Linked DNA regions of Homo sapiens. The protein of the gene in region 2 binds, or shares a complex with, the protein of the main gene of each other region. Each region holds a gene or a part of one and is shown on either strand. Other genes may lie near its edges. The genes, in order: EIF3J and EIF3B. A codon is read from its position in the direction of its gene.

Evidence for each region.
Region 1: the proteins of EIF3B (region 2) and EIF3J are in contact, whole or in part, in an NMR structure (PDB 2KRB), measured with the Homo sapiens proteins. Residues at the interface, in NP_001032360.1 of Homo sapiens: Lys202, Asn205, Val206, Ile207, Lys209, Ile210, Lys213, Asn249, Ala250, Asp251, Gly252, Tyr253, Lys254, Leu255, Phe261; in NP_003749.2 of Homo sapiens: Asp45 (codon at 2,734), Glu46 (codon at 2,731), Asp50, Asn51, Trp52, Asp53, Asp54, Asp55.

What each region holds. Positions count from the first base shown.
Region 1 is NC_000015.10:44,530,929-44,540,146, reverse strand, and holds the start of EIF3J (eukaryotic translation initiation factor 3 subunit J), read right to left. Parts: upstream 3,001-9,218; 5' UTR 2,953-3,000; coding exon 2,910-2,952; intron 2,824-2,909; coding exon 2,720-2,823; intron 1-2,719. UniProt on the Homo sapiens protein: Component of the eukaryotic translation initiation factor 3 (eIF-3) complex, which is required for several steps in the initiation of protein synthesis.
Region 2 is NC_000007.14:2,350,379-2,359,440, forward strand, and holds the start of EIF3B (eukaryotic translation initiation factor 3 subunit B), read left to right. Parts: upstream 1-4,448; 5' UTR 4,449-4,543; coding exon 4,544-5,042; intron 5,043-9,062.

The DNA.
Region 1 (9,218 bases), on a different chromosome or scaffold from region 2:
GCCAAGATGGTGAAACCCCGTCTCTACTAAAAATACAAAAATTAGCTGGGTGTGGTGGTGGGCGCTTGTAATCCCAGCTACTCGGGAGGCTGAGGCAGAGAACTGCTTGAACCTGGGAGGCGGAGGTTGCAGTGAGCCAAGATCGTGCCACGGCACTCCAGCCTGGGTGACAGAGCAAGACTCTATCTCAAAAAAAAAAAAAAGAAAAAAATATGTAAATTAGCTGGGCACGGCGGTGCACACCTGTAATCCCAGCTACTAGAAAGGCTGAGGCTGGAGAATCACTTGAATCCGGGAGGCGGAGGTTGCAGAGATCGTGCCACTGCACTCCAGCCTGGGAAACGGGGTGAGACCTTCTCTCAAAAAATTAGATGAATAGATAGATTGCTTTAAGTTAAAAAAAAAAAAAAAAAAGAAAAAGAAATTTAGCACTAAAACAGCAACTGGGGCCGGGTGTGGTGGCTCACGCCTGTAATCCCAGCACTTTGGGAGGCCAAGGCGGGCAGATCACAAGGTCAGGAGATTGAGACCATCCTGGCTAACACGGTGAAACCCCGTCTCTACTAAAAATAGAAAAAATTAGCCGGGCGTGGTGGTGGGCACCTGTAGTCCTCGGGAGGCTGAGGCAGGAGAATGGAGTGAACCTGGGAGGCGGAGCTTGCAGTGAGCGGAGATTGTGCCACTGCACTCCAGCCTGGGTGACAGAGCGAGACTCCATTTCCAAAAAAAAAAGAGCAACTGGACAAGATAATCTTTGTGGTCCCTTACAACTTGTAAATATCCAAAACTTGTTCCAAGTGATCAGAATTATATTCATCAGAGGCTGGGTACGGTAGCTCACGCCTATAATTCCAGCACTTTGGGAGGCTAAGGCAGGAGAATCACCTGAGGTCAGAAGTTCAAGACCAGCCTGGGCAACATGGCGAAACCCCGTCTCTACTAAAAATACAAAATTAGCCAGGCGTGGTGGTGCGTGCCTGTAATCCCAGCTACTTGGGAGGCTGAAGCAGGAGAATCACTTGAACCCAGGAGGTGGAGGTTGCAGTGAGCCAAGATCGCGCCATTGCACTCCAGCCTGGGCAACAAGAGCGAAACTCCATCTCAAAAAAAAAAAAAAAAAGAATTATATTCATCAAGATCGATACCATTTAGATCCCTTAATCCCAAGGAAGTTATTCCATGACATTAGTCTAGACTATCCATTAAAACTTCATTTTCTGCAACTTCTTTCCTAATATCTCTAATCTTTTCTCTGCATTTGTTAATTTATTCCCAAATTTCATAACAGATGTCTTAACTGCCACTTCCTATATGCATGGAAAAAAATGAAAGGACCAATATGAACCCAAGGCTCAAAACTGAAAATCTGCTACAATGTAGAGGGGTAACTAATATCTTGTAATGCGGCTGGTAACAAAATCTAGTCCCATGTTTCTACAACATGTAAATAAAGCATCTGAGTGTCTTCAAACAATAACCAGTCGATTTATTAACTTCAATGTGTGCAAAGCTCACAACATTCTTGAACCTCAGGCTGTCAGTAAATCGGACATCCACACATCCAACCTCATCGGACTGGGGAGAGAACAGAAAAACTCAAAACAACATTCCTATTAAGTTCATAGTGATTATCTAGCTTAAACTTTTCAGCCCAGGCAGGATTTATAGGGTTCTCCGTTTGTGTTTATAAATTAGGAGAAATTCACTAAATTAGGCAAAACCACAAAAAAAAATCATTTTCCATTTCACACAAAACTTTATCTGCACAAATATAACAAGATTTTGAGAACTTTGTTAATAAGAGTCTTAACATTTTGGATTTGAGACTTCTGTAACTACTGTAAAAAAAAAAAAAAACCATGTAGAAGTAAATGTCACTTACAGCTGTATAATGAACCCTTCGGAGTTTTCAAAATCAAACGACTGAGGTAAAAATGATTATCTACAAGGCACAGACAAAACAACAACAACAACAAAAAACCACGGGCCCGTCATCTACAACCACCACCAAATCTTCAATATTTCCTTAGGTGTCGTATGTGTGTAGTTGAGTAACTGTCGTCTCTCCATTTCTCAGGTCACGGTGTGAACTACCTGGGTTTCTGTCCACTAACTGCGGGCTATCTCAGTGGTCAGTTCATTCTTTTTACCACAGGGTGGGGGAAGGGAGAGCCAAAAGTTATTTCCCTTTACTGTTTCTAGCTGTCTCGTGTGGGAAAAAAAGGTTGAAATTCAACTACAATATTTCACTCATCTAATCCCTCGAACAAACTGTATAAGTAGACCTCAGGGTCATAAATGAGTTACTGGCCCTGGGCTGACTTGAGCTCGAAAAGACAGGCGAGTCTCAAGGCTTTCCATATGGATAAGCTACAAGGCTCAATTCCCAACTTCCCGGTCTCATTCCTGCGAGAGGCTCCGGACCGCGAAGCTTGCACGTGGGCCGACCCGGCCGATGCTGTCACCTTTCGTCGCCAGCCGGCGGGTGGGATCCACGCCGGAGAGCAGACTCTCAACCGGCGAGGGAGTCCGGGAGGCCACGCTGCCAGTCTTCGGCCCACACATGGCCGGCAAGCGGAGGGGAAGAGAGCACCGCCAGGCCCTATGCTCGCGCCTGGACCCACGGCCCGCAGGCCCCGGCAGCGACCCGGGGCCCAGAGTCGGCCGGCAACAGCGCCAGCCCGCTTCCGCGCTGCCCGGCGCCCTAGCCCGCACCCACCTTGACGTCCTCGTCCTCGTCCTCGCCTTCCCAGCGGTCCCCGCCGGCAGTGCCGCCGCCCCCCACCTTCCGCACTGGGTCTTCCACGGAGAAAGCGTCGGCGTCTACGGAAGAAAGCGAGCCGTGTTAGTGCCTGCCACTGCGTGGGGCCGGCGCCGGCCCGGGCCCTGCCCCAGCAACTTCTCCTCACCCCAGGAGTCCGAGTCCCCCGCCGCCGCCGCCGCCGCCGCCATCTCGAGCCGGGTGTGAGCGTGTGTGAGAGGGAGAGCTAGCGAGGAGTTAGCACGGCGGAGGTGAGTCACTGGGTTTGCTCTCGTTGACCGGCGCGGAGCAGGATGGGACCGTGGCTGACTGTGCGCCGAGCCGAGGCCACGCCCCCTCAGGCGGCGGCGGCGACGCGCGCGGGTAAGAAGTGGGCGGGGAACGCGGTCGGTGGCGCTGCGGGGCTGAGGGAGAGGCGGAGGGGGGGGCGGAGGGGGGCGGAGGGAGGGGCGGAAAGAGCAGAGGGAGGGGCACAGGGGGCTGAGGAGTGCTGGGTCGGGCTTCCAGCTCCCTACAACGCAGACCAGTACTGGAGTTCGTGGTGCTGGAAGACCGCCGCCCGACTCTGGGCCCCGGGTAGGAAACGTAAGTGCCAGGAAGTTAGCAGAGTGGTTCTTTGGCTGGCGCCTGAACCTCGCCAGTCTTCGTCGCCCCTCCCCTGCCAACGCCTACCCCGCTTCGACCGGAGGGTGCGCTGTCCCTCTGGTCACTGTGATCACCGTCCATGGCCGCCTGCGGATACCCACGCCGTGCTCAGAAGAGGGCTCTGAGGCCACGCCCGCCTGTGGGGTCGGTGGCCGGGCTTCCGGGACCCCAGAGGGAGTCGTCGCGCGCTAGGTGGAGGGGACCCCTCTGGAATCCGGCGATCCCCGGGCGCAGATGCAGGAGCGGGTGGGGAGAGCCGCGTTCCTGGCATGTTTGCCTCGAGTTAGTCACGAAGGAATCGAAGAGAGCCTTAGTCTTCGAGGCTTTTCCCTTCCTGTGAGCCCCTTTGAGGCCAGCACATTGATTTTTTTTTCTTTCGCAGAACAATTTCGGACCTCCTGGGGTCTATGCTAGGTATGAGGTGTATCTTTGCCCTCCATCAAGTAGCAAAGATGGACATGTAAACAAATTTCGACACTGTGATGACTGCCACAAAAAGCAGCATTATGAGGTTGAATGTAAAAGGATAACCTTAGCGGCGGCGGGGGCCGGAGGATGAAGGAAGGCTTCCTGAGGTAGGCGCTGGTTGAAACTGAAGTTGGAGAGAGCAAGTGGCATTTGCTGAAGTGCATTTCCGGTAGAAAACTCCAGTGGTCCCTCACCTGACTGAGTGGCGCAGTCAGAGATAAATGGAACAGGTACACTGACCAGAAAGGGCAAGATGGGCTAAACTTCGCCGTTGGGCCACTGGGCTCCCCCGCAGGATTTTAAAGAGCTAGCCAGTAGATGGATTTTGTTTTTGTTATTTTCGCAATTTATTTTCAAATATGTAATACGCGAACTTGGTACAACATTCATGTGATAAAAAGGTAGATACGTGGGCAGGACGCGGTGGCTCACGCCTGTAATCCCAGCATTTTGGGAGGCCGAGATGGGCGGATCATTTGCTGTCAGGAGTTCGAGACCAGCCTGGCCAACATGGTAAAACCCCACCTCTACTAAAAATACAAAAATCACCTGGGCGTGGTGGCGGGCGCCTGTAATCCCCACTACTAGGGAGGCTGAGGCAGGAGAATCGCTTGAACCCGGGAGGCGGAGGTTGCAACAGTGAGCCGAGATCGCGCCACGGCTCTCCAGCCTGGGCGACAGTTAGACCCGTCTCAAAAAAAAAAAAAAAACAAAAAAGGTAGATACAACGATCAGCTGCTCCGCTCCGTTCTTTCTAGTGGTAACCATTGTTCCCCCTTTCTGGTGTTATCTTTTCAGAGTCTACAAATAAACATTTTATAAAGATGATCCTTCAATACATATTCTACAGCCCAGTTAAAATGTGAGAGGCCATGATCTACAGACAGCCATTTATAAAGGTGGATCAGGGCCGGACACGGTGGCTCAACGTCTGTAATCCCGGCACTGTGGGAGGCCAAAGCGGGAGGATCGCTTGAGCCCAGGAGTTCGAGACCAACCTGGCCAACATGGTGAGACCCCATCTTTACAAAAAAATATATATATCCAGGCATAGTGGTGTGCACCTGTGGTCCTGTGGTCCCAGCTACTCAGGAAGCTGAGGCAGTTGAGGCTGCAGTGAGCCACGTTCTGGCCACTACACTCCAGCCTGGGCATCAAAGTGACAAGACCAAAAAAAAAAAAAAATGTGGATTGGAAGGAGGCAAGAAAGAAGTCAGGAAAAGGGTGGAATGTAAGTCCCTAAGGACACAATCTTACTCACAATTGTATCTCCAACATTTGGCATAATGCCTAATACGTAAGTATTTTATGAATTAATTAAACGAGAACACAAGCCTAAATTAAGGCAATGGCAATGGAGAAGAAGAAACCAACTTGAGAAATATTTAAAGGTCATTGTCAATGGAACTTAGTGACTTTAATGGTTAATTTTATCTATCAACTTGGCTAGGCGATGCTACCCATGTTACTCAGTTTTTGGTCAAACACTAGTCTAGTTGTTGCTATGAATTGTATTTGTTAGATGTGATTAACATTTAAATCAGCAGACTTTGATTAAAGTACATTACCCTCTATAATGAGGGTGGGCCGCATCCGGTCAGTTCAAATTAAAACGAGACCCTTAAGAAGAAGCAATTCAGCCTCCAGACTGCAGCGTCAAATCTCCCTGGGTCTCCAGGCTGTTTGTCTGCCCTGCAGATTTCAGACTTGCCAGCTCCCAGAATAATGTGAGCCAATTCCTTAAAATAAATCTCTTTCTGCATATACACATCCTATTGATTCTGTTTCTCTGGAGAACCCGTACTAATATAGTGTCTGACTAGATATGAAGGAGGAGGGGAAGGGAGAAATAGATAGACGATGCCTTTGGATATTGAGTGACACTTATCTAGTTGCTTAAGTCAAAAACCTGAAAACTGGTTAGGCACGCCTATTACGGGCTCACGCCTGTAATCCCAGCACTTAGGGAGGCTGAGGCAGGCAGATCATTTGAAGTAATTCAAGACCAGCCTGGCCAACATGATGAAACCCCAAGACCACTAAAAATACAAAAATTAGCCGGGCGTGGTGGCACATGCCTGTAACCCCAGCTCCTCAGGAGGCTAAAGCAGGAAAATTGCTTGAACCCAGGAAACAGAGGTTGCAGTGAGCCGAGATTGTGCTACTCCACTCCAGCCTGGGAGAGACTCCATCTGAAAACAAACAACAAAAAAAAATGCTGGGCACAGTGGCTCACGCCTGTAATCCCAGCACTTTAGGAGGCTGAGGCGGGCGGATCACCTGAGGTCAGGAGTTCAAGACCAGCCTGGCCAATGTGGCAAACCCCATCTCTACTAAAAATAAAAAAAAAATTAGCTGGGCATGTTGGCGGGCACCGTAATACCAGCTACTCGGGAAGATGAGGCAGGAGAATCACTTGAACCGGGAGGCAGAAGTTGCAGTGAGCTAAGATCGCGCCATTGCACTTTAGCCTGGGCGACGAGCGAAACTCCCTCTCAAAAAAAAAGAAGAAGGCTGGGCGCGGTGGCTCATGCCTGTAATCCCAGCACTTTGGGAGGCCGAGGTGGGTGGATCACTTGAGGTCAGTAGTTCGAGACTAGCCTGGACATGGTGAAACCTGTCTCTACTAAAAATACAAAAATTAGCCAGGTATAGTGGCTCATGCCTATAATTCCAGCTACTTGGGAGGTTGAGGCAGGACAATGGTTTGAACCCAGGAGGCAGAGGTTGTAGTGAGCTGAGATTGTGCCACTGCACTCCAGCCTGGATGACACTCTATCAAAAAAAAAAAAAAGAAAAGAAAAAAAAAAAAAAACTGGGGCATGTGGGTTGAAGGTGCTATGGAAAAATTCATGGGCTATGTGTATGCAGCATTGTTTTCAAAGCAGAAATTGAGAATTTATTTATAGTGGTGTGCATACTGCTTTTTCAAATGAGGAAACAGGAAAACAAGGTTCTAGACCTATGTATTAGGGACTTCCTTTAGTCTGTAAAACTTGTGCCAGGCGTGGTGGCTCACACCTGTAATCCCAGCACTTTGGGTGGCTGAGGCAGGTGGATCACCTGAAGTCAGGAGTTCCAAGACCAGGCTGGCCAACCTGGTGATACCCCCGTCTCTACTAAAAATACAAAAAAATAGCCGGATGTGGTGGTGCACTCCTGTAATCCCAGCTATTTGGAAGGCTGAGGCAGGAGAATCGCTTGAACCCAGGAGGCAGAGGTTGCAGTGAGCCAAGATCATGCCACTGCACCCAGCCTGGGCAACAGAGCGAGTCTCTGTCTCAAAACAAACACACAAAAAAACTTGTGATTCACAGGTTAGTCTCTAGGGGAGCTCTATAATCACAAAGACAGTGACAGTATTCCCATTTTACAGATGAGCAGACTAGGTAATCAATGTTTCTTAACAAATTAACATTAAAACTTCTGTCAGGAAGTTCCAGGCCAGGCACAGTGGCTCACATCTAAAATGCCGGCACTTAGGAAGGCTGAGGCAGGAGGATCACTTGAGCTCATTTCAAGACCAGCCTGGGCAACATGGCAAGACTCCATCTCTACAAAAAATAAAAAATTAGCTGGGCATGGTGGCACACACCTGTAGTTCCTGCTACTCAGGGGGCTGAAGTGGGAGGGCCACTTGAGCCTGGGAGGTTGAGGTTGCAGTGAGCCATGATCGTGCCACTGCACTCCAGCCTGGATGACAGAGCCAGCCCGTCTCAAAAAAAGTTTCCTCATGGCTGGGTGCAGTGGCTTATGCCTGTCATCCGAGCACTTTGGGAGGCAGAGACGGGTGGATCACCTGAACTCAGGAGTTCCACCAGCTACTCAGGAGGCTGAGGCAGGAGAATCACTTGAACCCAGGAGGTGGAGGTTGCAGTGAGCTGAGATCCCGCCACTGCACTCCAGACTAAGTAACAGAGTGAGACTTCATGTCAAAAAAAAAAAAAAAGTTTCATCATTGAAGCTATAGAAGAGTAAATAAACAACACAAATGAAGCAGAGCTACTTATAGGTTCTTTTTTTTGAGATGACATTTTGCTCTCGTTGCCCAGGCTGGCGCAATCTCTGCTCACGGCAACCTCTGCCTCCCAGGTTCCAGTGATTCTCCTGCCTCAGCCTCCTGAGCAGCTGGGATTACAAGTGTGTGCCACCATGCCCAGATAATTTTTTGTAGTTTTAGTAGAGATGGGTTTCATCGTGTTGGCCAGGCTGGTCTCGAACTCCTAACCTCAGGTGATCCCCCCGCCTCAGCCTCCCAAAGTGCAGGGATTACAGGTGTGAGCCATTGTGCCTGGCCTTAGAGTTCTTTTTTTTTTTTTTTTTTTTTTTTTTTGAGATGGACTCTCGCTCTGTTACCCAGGCTGGAGTGCAGTGGCACAATCTCGGCTCACTGCAAGATCCGCCTCCTGGGTTCACGCCATTCTCCTGCCTCAGCCTCCCGAGTAGCTGGGGCTACAGGTGCCCGCCACCGCGCCCGGCTAATTTTTTTTGTATTTTTAGTAGAGACGGGGTTTCACCGTGGTCTTGATCTCCTGACCTCGTGATCCGCCCGCCTCGGCCTTCCAAAGTGCTAGGATTACAGGTGTGAGCCATGCGCCCGGCCCCTTTATAGCTTCTTTTTAAGAGGAAGTACCTTAAGCATCAGACTCAAAATCTTATAAAGATGGACTAGGTTAAGGCTGAAGAGCAGATTGTTTTAATTGGAAATAGGGGCAGGTCAAAACTCCTATTTATAAAAGTGCAAAATTATGGAGTCATTGCATGTTTTTTCTAATGATTTCTTGGGAAAAAGAGTACATGTAAAAACAAATTTTGGCAGAGCACAGTGGCTCATGCCTGTAATCCCAGAACTTTGGGAGGCCAAGGCAGGCGGGTGGATCACTTGAGGTCAGGAGTTTGAGCCCAGCCTGGCCAACATGGTGAAACCCTGTCTCTACTAAAAATACAAAAATTGGCTGAGCATCATGGTGCACGCCTGTAGTCCCAGCTACTAGGGAGGCTGAGGCGGGAGAATCGCTGGAACCCGGGAGGCAGAGGTTGCAGGGAGCTGAGATCCCACCACTGCACTCCAGCCTGGACAACAGAGCAAGATTACATCTCAATAATTAAATAAATAAAGTTTTTGATTTATATGATTTGATTAAGTTAAATGAAATTTTTTATTTTAAACCAAAACGAAAAACCAAAACCCTACCCCCATGAGTCTTAAGACACGAAACTGTCTCCATTCAACTTCCATATATTTTTCCATACTTACAGGGTACCATAAAATCCTACAGTACCTTCCTATTCCTGTCTGGCCAGCGGAAAAAACATGCCTTCCTCAGGGAGTGCCTAAAATCCA
Region 2 (9,062 bases):
CATAGTTATGAACCAATGTTAATATCAATAGAAATGCAACAAACCCATAAAACTTATAATTTCACGGAAACTATAAATTTGGCCTTAAAATGAAGTCACGTTTCTTTAGAAAGAGTTTTGAGGGAAATTAAAGCTTACCCCTGGGCCGAGCGCGGTGGCTCATGCCTATAATCCCAGCACTTTGGGAGGCCAACGCAGAAGGTTTGCTCTAAGCCAGGAGTTCAAGACCAGCTTGGGCTAACAGTGAGACACTCTCCCCCATCTCTAAAAACAATTTTTTTTTTTTGACACAGAGTCTCACTCTGTCATTTAGGTTGGAGTGCAGTGGCACAACCTCGGCTCACTGCAGCCTCTGCCTCCTGGGCTCAAGTGATCCTCCTGCCTCAGCCTCCTGAGTAGCTGGGATTACAGGCGCCTGCGGCCACACCCGGCTAAATTTTGTATTTTTAGTAGAGATAGGGTTTCACCATGTTGGCCAGGCTAGTCTTGAACTCCTGACCTCAAGTGATCCTCCTGCCTCACTCTCCCAAAGTGCTGGGATTACCGGTGGGAGCCACTGTGCCTCGCTCTCTAAATAAACAATTTAAAAAATTAGCCGGGCACAGTGGTGCACGCCTATAGTCTCAACTACTCAGGAGGAGGCGGCGGGAGGATCACGAGCCTGGGAGTTTGAGGCTGCAGTGAGCCATGATTGCGCCACTGTGCTCCCGGCCTGGGTGACAGAGTGAGACCTTGTCTCAAAAACAAAAAGAAAAAAATCTACCCCTGGAAGCACAACACAGGCCACGCTGCAGGTCAGCCTGGGAGCCTCATCCGGCCATCTCTGCTGCCAGGGTTGGTGCGGTGCCTCAGGTTTCCCACTCCTTCACCTCAGAGGCTCAGAAATAGACCAGCGGAGGCCAGGCCTGCTGGCTCATGCCTGTAGCACTTTGGGAGGCAGAGTTGGGAGAACTGCTTGAGCCCAGGAGTTGAAGACCAGACTGAGCAACATAGTGAGACCCCATCTCTACAGAAAAACAAAAAGGTAGCCCGATGTGGTGGTGTGGATCTGTACTACCAGATACTCAGGAAGCTAAGGTGAGCCTGTGAGACTGAAGCTACAGTGAGGTGCGACGGCACCACTGTACTCCAGCCTGGGTGACAGAGTGAGACCCTGTTAAAAAATAATAATAGGCCAGGCGCAGTGGCTCACGCCTGTAATCCCAGCACTTCGGGAGGCCAAGGCGGGCGGATCACGAGGTCAGGAGAGTGAGACCATCCTGACTAACAGGATGAAACCCGTCTCTACTAAAAATACAAAAAATTAGCCGGGTGTGGTGGCAGGCGCCTGTAGTCCCAGCTACTCGGGAGGCTGAGGCAGGAGAATTGCTTGAACCCGGGAGGTGGAGCTTGCAGTGATCCGAGATAGCACCACTGCACTCCAGCCTGGGCGACAGAGTGAGACTCCATCTCAAAAAATAAATAAATAAATAAATAAAGATAATAATAAAAACAAAAAATCGAGTAAGTTTTTGTTGTTGTTGTTGGTTTTTTTTTTTTTTTTTTTTTGAGATGGATTTTTGCTCGTTGCCCAGGCTGGAGTGAAATGGTGCAATCTCCGCTCACTACGCCCTCTGCCTCCAGGGTACAAGTGATTCTCCCGCCTCAGCCTCCTGAGTAGCTGAGATTACAGGCATGTGCCACCATGCCTGGCTAATTTTTGTATTTTTAGTAGAGATGGGGTTTCACCATGTTGTTCAGGCTGGTCTCGAACTCCTGACCTCATGTAATGCATCCGCCCACCTTGGCCTCCCAAAGTGCTGGGATTACAGGTGTGAGCCACCATGCCCGGCCATAATTTCCTTCTTCTAATAAGGACATCAATCACTGATTTAGGGTCCACTCTCGTCCACTTTGACTTCATCTTGATTACATCTGGGAAGACTGCTTCCAAACACAGTAGCCCCCCCGACCCCCAGTTTCACATTGCACTGTTTCAGTTACTTATGGTCAATTAGGTTGGAAAATATTACATAATGAAGAAAATTTGACAGAGAGAGACACAGACACACCACCAGACACCACATCCACATAACTTTTATGACAATATATTGTTATAATTGTTCTATTAGTTATTGCTGTTAATCTCTTACTGTGCCCTATTGTAAGCATGCATATGTAGAAAAAACATACTCCCAGGCGTATTGGCTCACACCTGTAATCCCAGCACTTTGGGAGGCCGAGGCAGGCGGATCACAAGGTCAGGAGATCGAGACCATCCTGGCTAATACGGTGAAACCTCGTCTCTACTAAAAAAATACAAAAAAAATCAGCCAGGCGTGGTGGCGGGCACCTGTATTCCCAGCTACTTGGGAGGCTGAGGCAAGAGAATGGCGTGAACCCGGGAGGTGGAGCTTGCAGTGAGCCGAGATCGTGCCACTGCACTCCAGCCTAGGCGACAGAGCAACACTCCGTCTAAATAAAAAAAAAAAAAATTGTCATCCCTTATTGTACAGATGCGGAAACTGAGGTGGAGGCATTAAGTGACCTGCCCAAAGATACACCACTGACAGCATGATGAGGAGTAGTCAAACCTGGTACTAGGCATGGGAAGACTCTGCTTCTTTTTCGCTCTTTTAAACACCGTTAGGATGGGATGGGTGTGGTGGCTCATGCCTATAGTCCCGGCACTTTGGGAAGCTGAGGGAGGAAGACTGCTTGAGGCCAGGAGTTTGAGACCAGCCTGGGCAACACAGTGAGATGCTATCTACAAATAAAGAAATTAGCTGGGCACGGTGGCACATACCTTCAGTCCCAAGTACTTGGCAATGTACTTAATGTCACTGAACTGTACACTAAATTGCATATTAAAATGGCTAGGCCCTGCGCGGTGGTTCACGCTTGTAATCCTGGCACTTTGGGAGGCTGAGGTGGGAGGATTCTCTTGAGGCTGGAAGGTCCCGATTGCAGCGGCGCTGTGATTATGCCACCGCACTCTAGCCTGGGCAACAGAGCGAGACCCTATCTCTGAAAACAAACAAAACAAAAAAACTATAGGATGAAATATACATAAAATTTACCTTTTTGGCATTTTATTTTATTTTTTCGAAGACAGGGTCTCGCTATGTTGCCCTGACTGGTCTTGAACTCTTGGGCTCAAGTGATCCTCCTGTCTTGGCCTCCCAAAGTACTGGGAAGAGAGGTGTGAGCCACCGCGCAGGGCCTAGCCATTTTAATATGAAGTTTAGTATACAGTTCAGTGGCATCAAGTACATTCACCATGTTGTACCATCACCACCGTCATCTCCAAAACGTTCTCATCCTCCCAAATTGAAGGTCCGTCCCCGATAAACACTCCCCACTCTCCACCCCAGCCTCTGGGTACCACCTGTTTTATTTATTTATTTAATTTTCGTAGAGATGAGGGCTGGCGTGCGGGGGGTGGTGGTGCTATGTTGGCAAGGCTGGTCTCCAACTCCTAAGCTCAAGCGATCTTCCCACCTCAGCCTCCCAAAGTGCTGGGATAACAGGCGTGATCCACTGGGTTGTTTTCTAGGATGATTAAGACATCCCCCAACCAGTGGTTGTCCTCCACTCCGGCAAAAAACAAGATAGAAGCCACATGCACCCAATGCCCGTCCCGTGAGCACCCGCGCAGAGCGAACCGCTCCGGTCCCTCCGGAGTCAGCCTCGAGCTCCACGCGGCGAGGACCCGCCCCCGCCCCCACGTGACCCGCGCTGTCCCGCGCTGAAGGCGGCGGCCTCGGATGGACTGAACCACTGTGAAAGCCCGAATGGGGGGAAACAGGCAGTGACGGCCGCTAGGGAAGGACTGGGGGTAAGCGATTAAAGAAACTTCCATACATTTTTGTATCGCGCCAGGCAGTCGTCCTTCTAGTCGTGTGGGCCCTCTCTGGCTCGCCCCGAATTCCTTTTCTATTTTGAAGTAGTCTGTCCTTTTGCTCAGTCAGTAGGCGAGTCCAAGTGACAGACACGGACAGGGGGGACTTTAGTAACGTAAACTAAACGGTTTCCCTAGCGAAAGGCTCAGACGCCCTGAGCAATCGCCTGTTGAGTCTCCACTCTTCCAGGGTATTAACTGTTGAGTTAGAGGACATTTTCCTAGCATTCCGGGTACTAAAATCATTTCTTGTCCCCGCCTTCAGCTCCACAAATAGTTCAGTCCCGCCCCGCAGCGTCCGACGGGAAAGGAAAGGGGGAGGACGCCATGTTGGACGGAACCATCTGCTGCCACACATGGGGTGGTCAATGCTCCCATGAGTTTACTGATGCACAGAAACAACCTTGCTGAATGGAATTAAGCACTTTCTTGTCACAAATATATCAGTTTGATGATTTTCGGGCGCGGTCTTGTGGATGCGAGTCCTCTCAGGGTCGTTCGTGAGGCCCCAGGGCGTGGGTGCGCCCCCCGCCCCGCGGCCTTGGTGCGGCCTCCCCGTCGCACGCACATGGCTGGGCTGTAGCCGTCGCGGCGCGCGGTGCGGCCTGGGAGAGTCGGAAGCGCGGCGGCCGCGGAGCCCTGCGAGTAGGCAGCGTTGGGCCCATGCAGGACGCGGAGAACGTGGCGGTGCCCGAGGCGGCCGAGGAGCGCGCCGAGCCCGGCCAGCAGCAGCCGGCCGCCGAGCCGCCGCCAGCCGAGGGGCTGCTGCGGCCCGCGGGGCCCGGCGCTCCGGAGGCCGCGGGGACCGAGGCCTCCAGTGAGGAGGTGGGGATCGCGGAGGCCGGGCCGGAGTCCGAGGTGAGGACCGAGCCGGCGGCCGAGGCAGAGGCGGCCTCCGGCCCGTCCGAGTCGCCCTCGCCGCCGGCCGCCGAGGAGCTGCCCGGGTCGCATGCTGAGCCCCCTGTCCCGGCACAGGGCGAGGCCCCAGGAGAGCAGGCTCGGGACGAGCGCTCCGACAGCCGGGCCCAGGCGGTGTCCGAGGACGCGGGAGGAAACGAGGGCAGAGCGGCCGAGGCCGAACCCCGGGCGCTGGAGAACGGCGACGCGGACGAGCCCTCCTTCAGCGACCCCGAGGACTTCGTGGACGACGTGAGCGAGGAAGGTGAGGGCGCCCGGGGCGGGGCTGGCGAGCGGCGCGGGAGCGTGGCTGGGGTTCCCGAGGTGGGAGATATCGTCGGGCTGTGCCACCGGTTCGTGCAGAAGTTCCAGCGAGGGTGTCCGTGTGTTCCTGAGAAGCCACCGAGGGAGGGGTTCCCGAGTGCCCTGGAAGTGTTCTGAGAGCCCAGCGCCTCCCCTTTTCTTTCCTGAAAAAGGGGACAGGGTGGAGCTCACTTCGGGAGCCAGGCATTTGCATGACAACCAGAAATCTGAGAGGGTGGGAGAGGGCACATGGGGTACTCCGTTATGGCTGGGTGTGCTGTGAGTGTAGCAGCTGGGGGTACGGCAAAAACCGAAGACCCGGTGGCAGGTTTGCGGGTCTACGTGTCCCCAGAGCTGACCAGTCAGACCTCCCAAGGTCTGGATCGGAGGAACAGCTTGTGGCAGAGCCGGTGATTTTGTCCTCCTGCCCCTCAGAATTGTCCATCTCCAGAGACTTCCTTAGTGGGACAGGCACCCTGTGAAATTCCAGTTTGATTTTTCTTTATCTCTTGCGCTAAATCTATAAAGAGAGTTATTTTTCCAGGTTTTAATATTGCCGATAACAGCCAGCTTTGCCTTCATCTCAACCTTGATTGGATTTACAGGCATATTTTTGCTTCCTGTCTCAGAGATTTTTTCCTGAAGCTACTTCTGATGAGAGCTGGTCTCATTTGTTTTTCTTTTGTTTTTTAGCTCTCTTAAGCCTTTAAGTTGGGAACACATCAGCCTCTGCAGATTGGCTAAGTTGATACTAGAGTGAGAAAAATAAAAATACCCTTGCTGATGTAGCCAGCGATACACCAGGACAATTTCGGGAATAACATGGAGTTGCCAATTTATGATTTAAACGTATTTTTAAAAGGCTATCAGAGGGCCGGGCTGGGTGGCTCACGCCTGTAATCCCAGCACTTTGGGAGGCCGAGACGGGTGGATCACGAGGTCACCATCCTGGCTAACACGGTGAAACCCCGTCTCTACTAAAAATAAAAAAAAATTAGCCGGGCGTGGTGGCGGGCACCTGGATTTCCCAGCTACTCTGGAGGCTGAGGCAGGAGAATGGTGTGAACCTGGGAGGCGGAGCTTGCAGTGAGCCGAGATCCTGCCACTGCACTCCATCCTGGGCGACAGAGCAAGACTCCGTCTCAAAAAAAAAAAAAAAAGAAAAAGAAAAAAAGGTTATCAGAAATACAAGTCAGCCAGGTGTGCTGGTGCACACCTGTAGTCTCAGGTACTTGGGAGGCTGAGGCACGAGAATCACTTTAACCCAGGAGGTGGAGGTTGCAGTGAGCCTAGATCCCACCACTGCCTGGGCGACAGAGTGAGACCCTGTCTCAAAAAGTGAAAAATTAAAAAATAAAAACGCTGTCAGTTACTGTGACCATTACTATATTACACTTTTTTTTTTCATAAAAGACATTTTAGCATGAAAAGCAGGAAGGACACCACAAACTAAAGACTTTGGGAACATCTAGTCTACGCCCCTCAGTCCTGAGGAAACTTGTCCCTGAAGGTGGAGTAGGCTGCTGAGAATTCCCAGTGGGTCTATACTGCTTGGCCCACCAGACTCTCCTGCTCAGAACAGTGTTCTTTCTAACGCTTCAATTGTTATTATGGTTTAAAAATCAAAACTTTTGGTTTAATGATTATTTTGAGCCCTTGGATATTCTGCTACTTTTTTAAAAAGCATTATTTGAGCCCATCGAATTCACAGATTTCTAATACGTAGATTACTTCTGGAATTGGGAAGAGTCAGAGGATGCTAATATGACGACAGGGTTGGCCAGGCTGGGTGACGGCTGTGGGTCCTCAGCGGGCCCACGTGGCCCTGAAGGTGCAGTGTTGGCCAGAGTGACAGGTGAGGCATCTGGTCCTGAGGACTAAGGCTCAGGAAGCCGACTTTGTCATGGCCCTCCTGGTTGTGGTAACGCAGGTTTTGTGCTTTATGAGAAGAGCTGCCCTTCAGGGTCATTGTGCAAGACCGTAGGTGACTGTATCAGTTCTTTCCAGAAGGGCCAAGTCTTCCAAGGAGCAGGCCAGAGGTGGCCTGGAGTCCCTGTCTTGCTTTATTACTTTTTTGGTACAGATTAGCTTCTCAAACTGTAATCATCCTTTCAGTTTAATGTTTCAGCTGATCCAGGATTTTAACTCTAAATGTCTTTTTTGGCTCATTAACTATTCTTTCTCTTTCTATTTGCTATTTAGTGTTGAGAATTGTTCTCTTCTGTTTTTCCTGGAGACCGCTTGGGAATCCATGAGCCACGTGTAACCGATGCTTGGGCTGAGAGTGATCAAGGCGTTGTGTCTTCATGGTGTAGTTACTTCATTTATTTCCTTCCTACGTGTGGGCAGTTTCTCCTAGACTAGACGCTTTGAGCTTGTGGGAAGGAGTACCCAATTTGTGTAAAAGTTGAGCTTTTTATTGCAGCCTTATAAATTCAGATCAGGCTTGTCAGGCTATTTAATTGTATGGTAAGTGCTTTAGAAGTTACCCTAGGATTTGACTAGTTTCCATAGCAGGGTGTCCGGCACTGCAGTGACTGGCAACTGCCTTTTTCCCTTTTTTTTTCTCTTGTTCGTCTCAATTTTAGCATCGTTGAAAATAAAACGGCGATTATTTTTTAAGGCAGTATTTTCAATATTTCCTTTTTTTTTTTGAGACAGAGTCTCATTCTCTTGCTCAGACTGGAGTGCAATGGCTCACCGCAGCCTCTGCCTCCCCGCTTCAAGCGATTTTCCTGCCTCAGCCTCCCAAGTAGCTGGGATTATAAGCATGTGCCACCATGCCTGGCTACTTTTTGTATTTTTAATACAGATGGGGTTTTGCCTTGTTGGCCAGGCTGGTCTCGAACTCCTGGCCTCATGTGATTTGCCTTCCTTGGCTTCCAAAAATGCTGGGATTACAGGCGTGAGCCACCATGCTGGGTCAGTTTTCAATATTTCCGAAAGTGTTTTTTTGAGACGGAGTCTTGCTCTGTCGCTGGAGTGAGCCACCATGCCCAGCCAACTTTTGAGAATAAATACAGTAAAGAATATTTTCGGACATCTGCATATTTAGTATGTTGGAATTATCATTATTATTATTATTTGAGATGGAGTCTCACTCTGTCTCCCAGGCTGGAGTGCAGTGGCATGATCTTGGCTCACTGCAACCTCCATCTCCTGGGTTCAAGCGATTCTCCTGCCCCAGCCTCTCCAGTAGCTGGAATTACAGGCACCCACCACCATGCTTGGATCATTTTTCTCGTATTTTTATTAGGGACAGGTTTCACCATGTTGGCCAGGCTGGTCTTGAACTCCTGGCCTCAGGTAATCTGCCTGCCTCGGCCTCCCAAAATGCTGGGATTACAGGCGTGAGCCACTGAGCCTGGCCGTGTTCTAAATTCTGACACGTGATGCTTTCCAGCAGCCCTGCGAGGCATTTCATCACATCAAGAACAGCTTCACCTACCACTAAGAAAAAAATACTGTTATTTAATCTCAGTGGGGGTGGCAGCTCCCACCTGTAGTCCCTGCTACTTGGGAGGCTGAGGCAGGAGGATTGCTAGAGCCCAGGAGTTCCAGGCTAGCCTGGGCAGCATAACAAGACCCTGTCTCTTTACAAAGAAAAAAAAAAGTTGTTTCAGGAGCTTGTATATTCTCCAGTCTCCTAGTTTAAGTGCCGGTCTCTGCCCTGATAGTGTTTTTCAAAAAGGCTCTTTGTGATATAATTAAGAAATGTGTATTTGGGCTCTGCCTGGCTCTTGGCACTCAGCGTCTAAACCCTTGTAATTTCCAAAGTGGTAAGTGTCTTTTTGTAGACGAGGACTTGATTGATGGCTGGGGCTCCTTGCCAGGGAACCAACCACGTGATTAGAGGGTGGGACCTTTTAGGTCTCCCCCTGCCACCCAGAAGGAAGAGGGCTGAAAGTTGAGTTGATCACCGGTGCTCAGTGATGTCATTAATCACGCCTCTATAATGAGATCTTCATAGAAACCCAAAAGG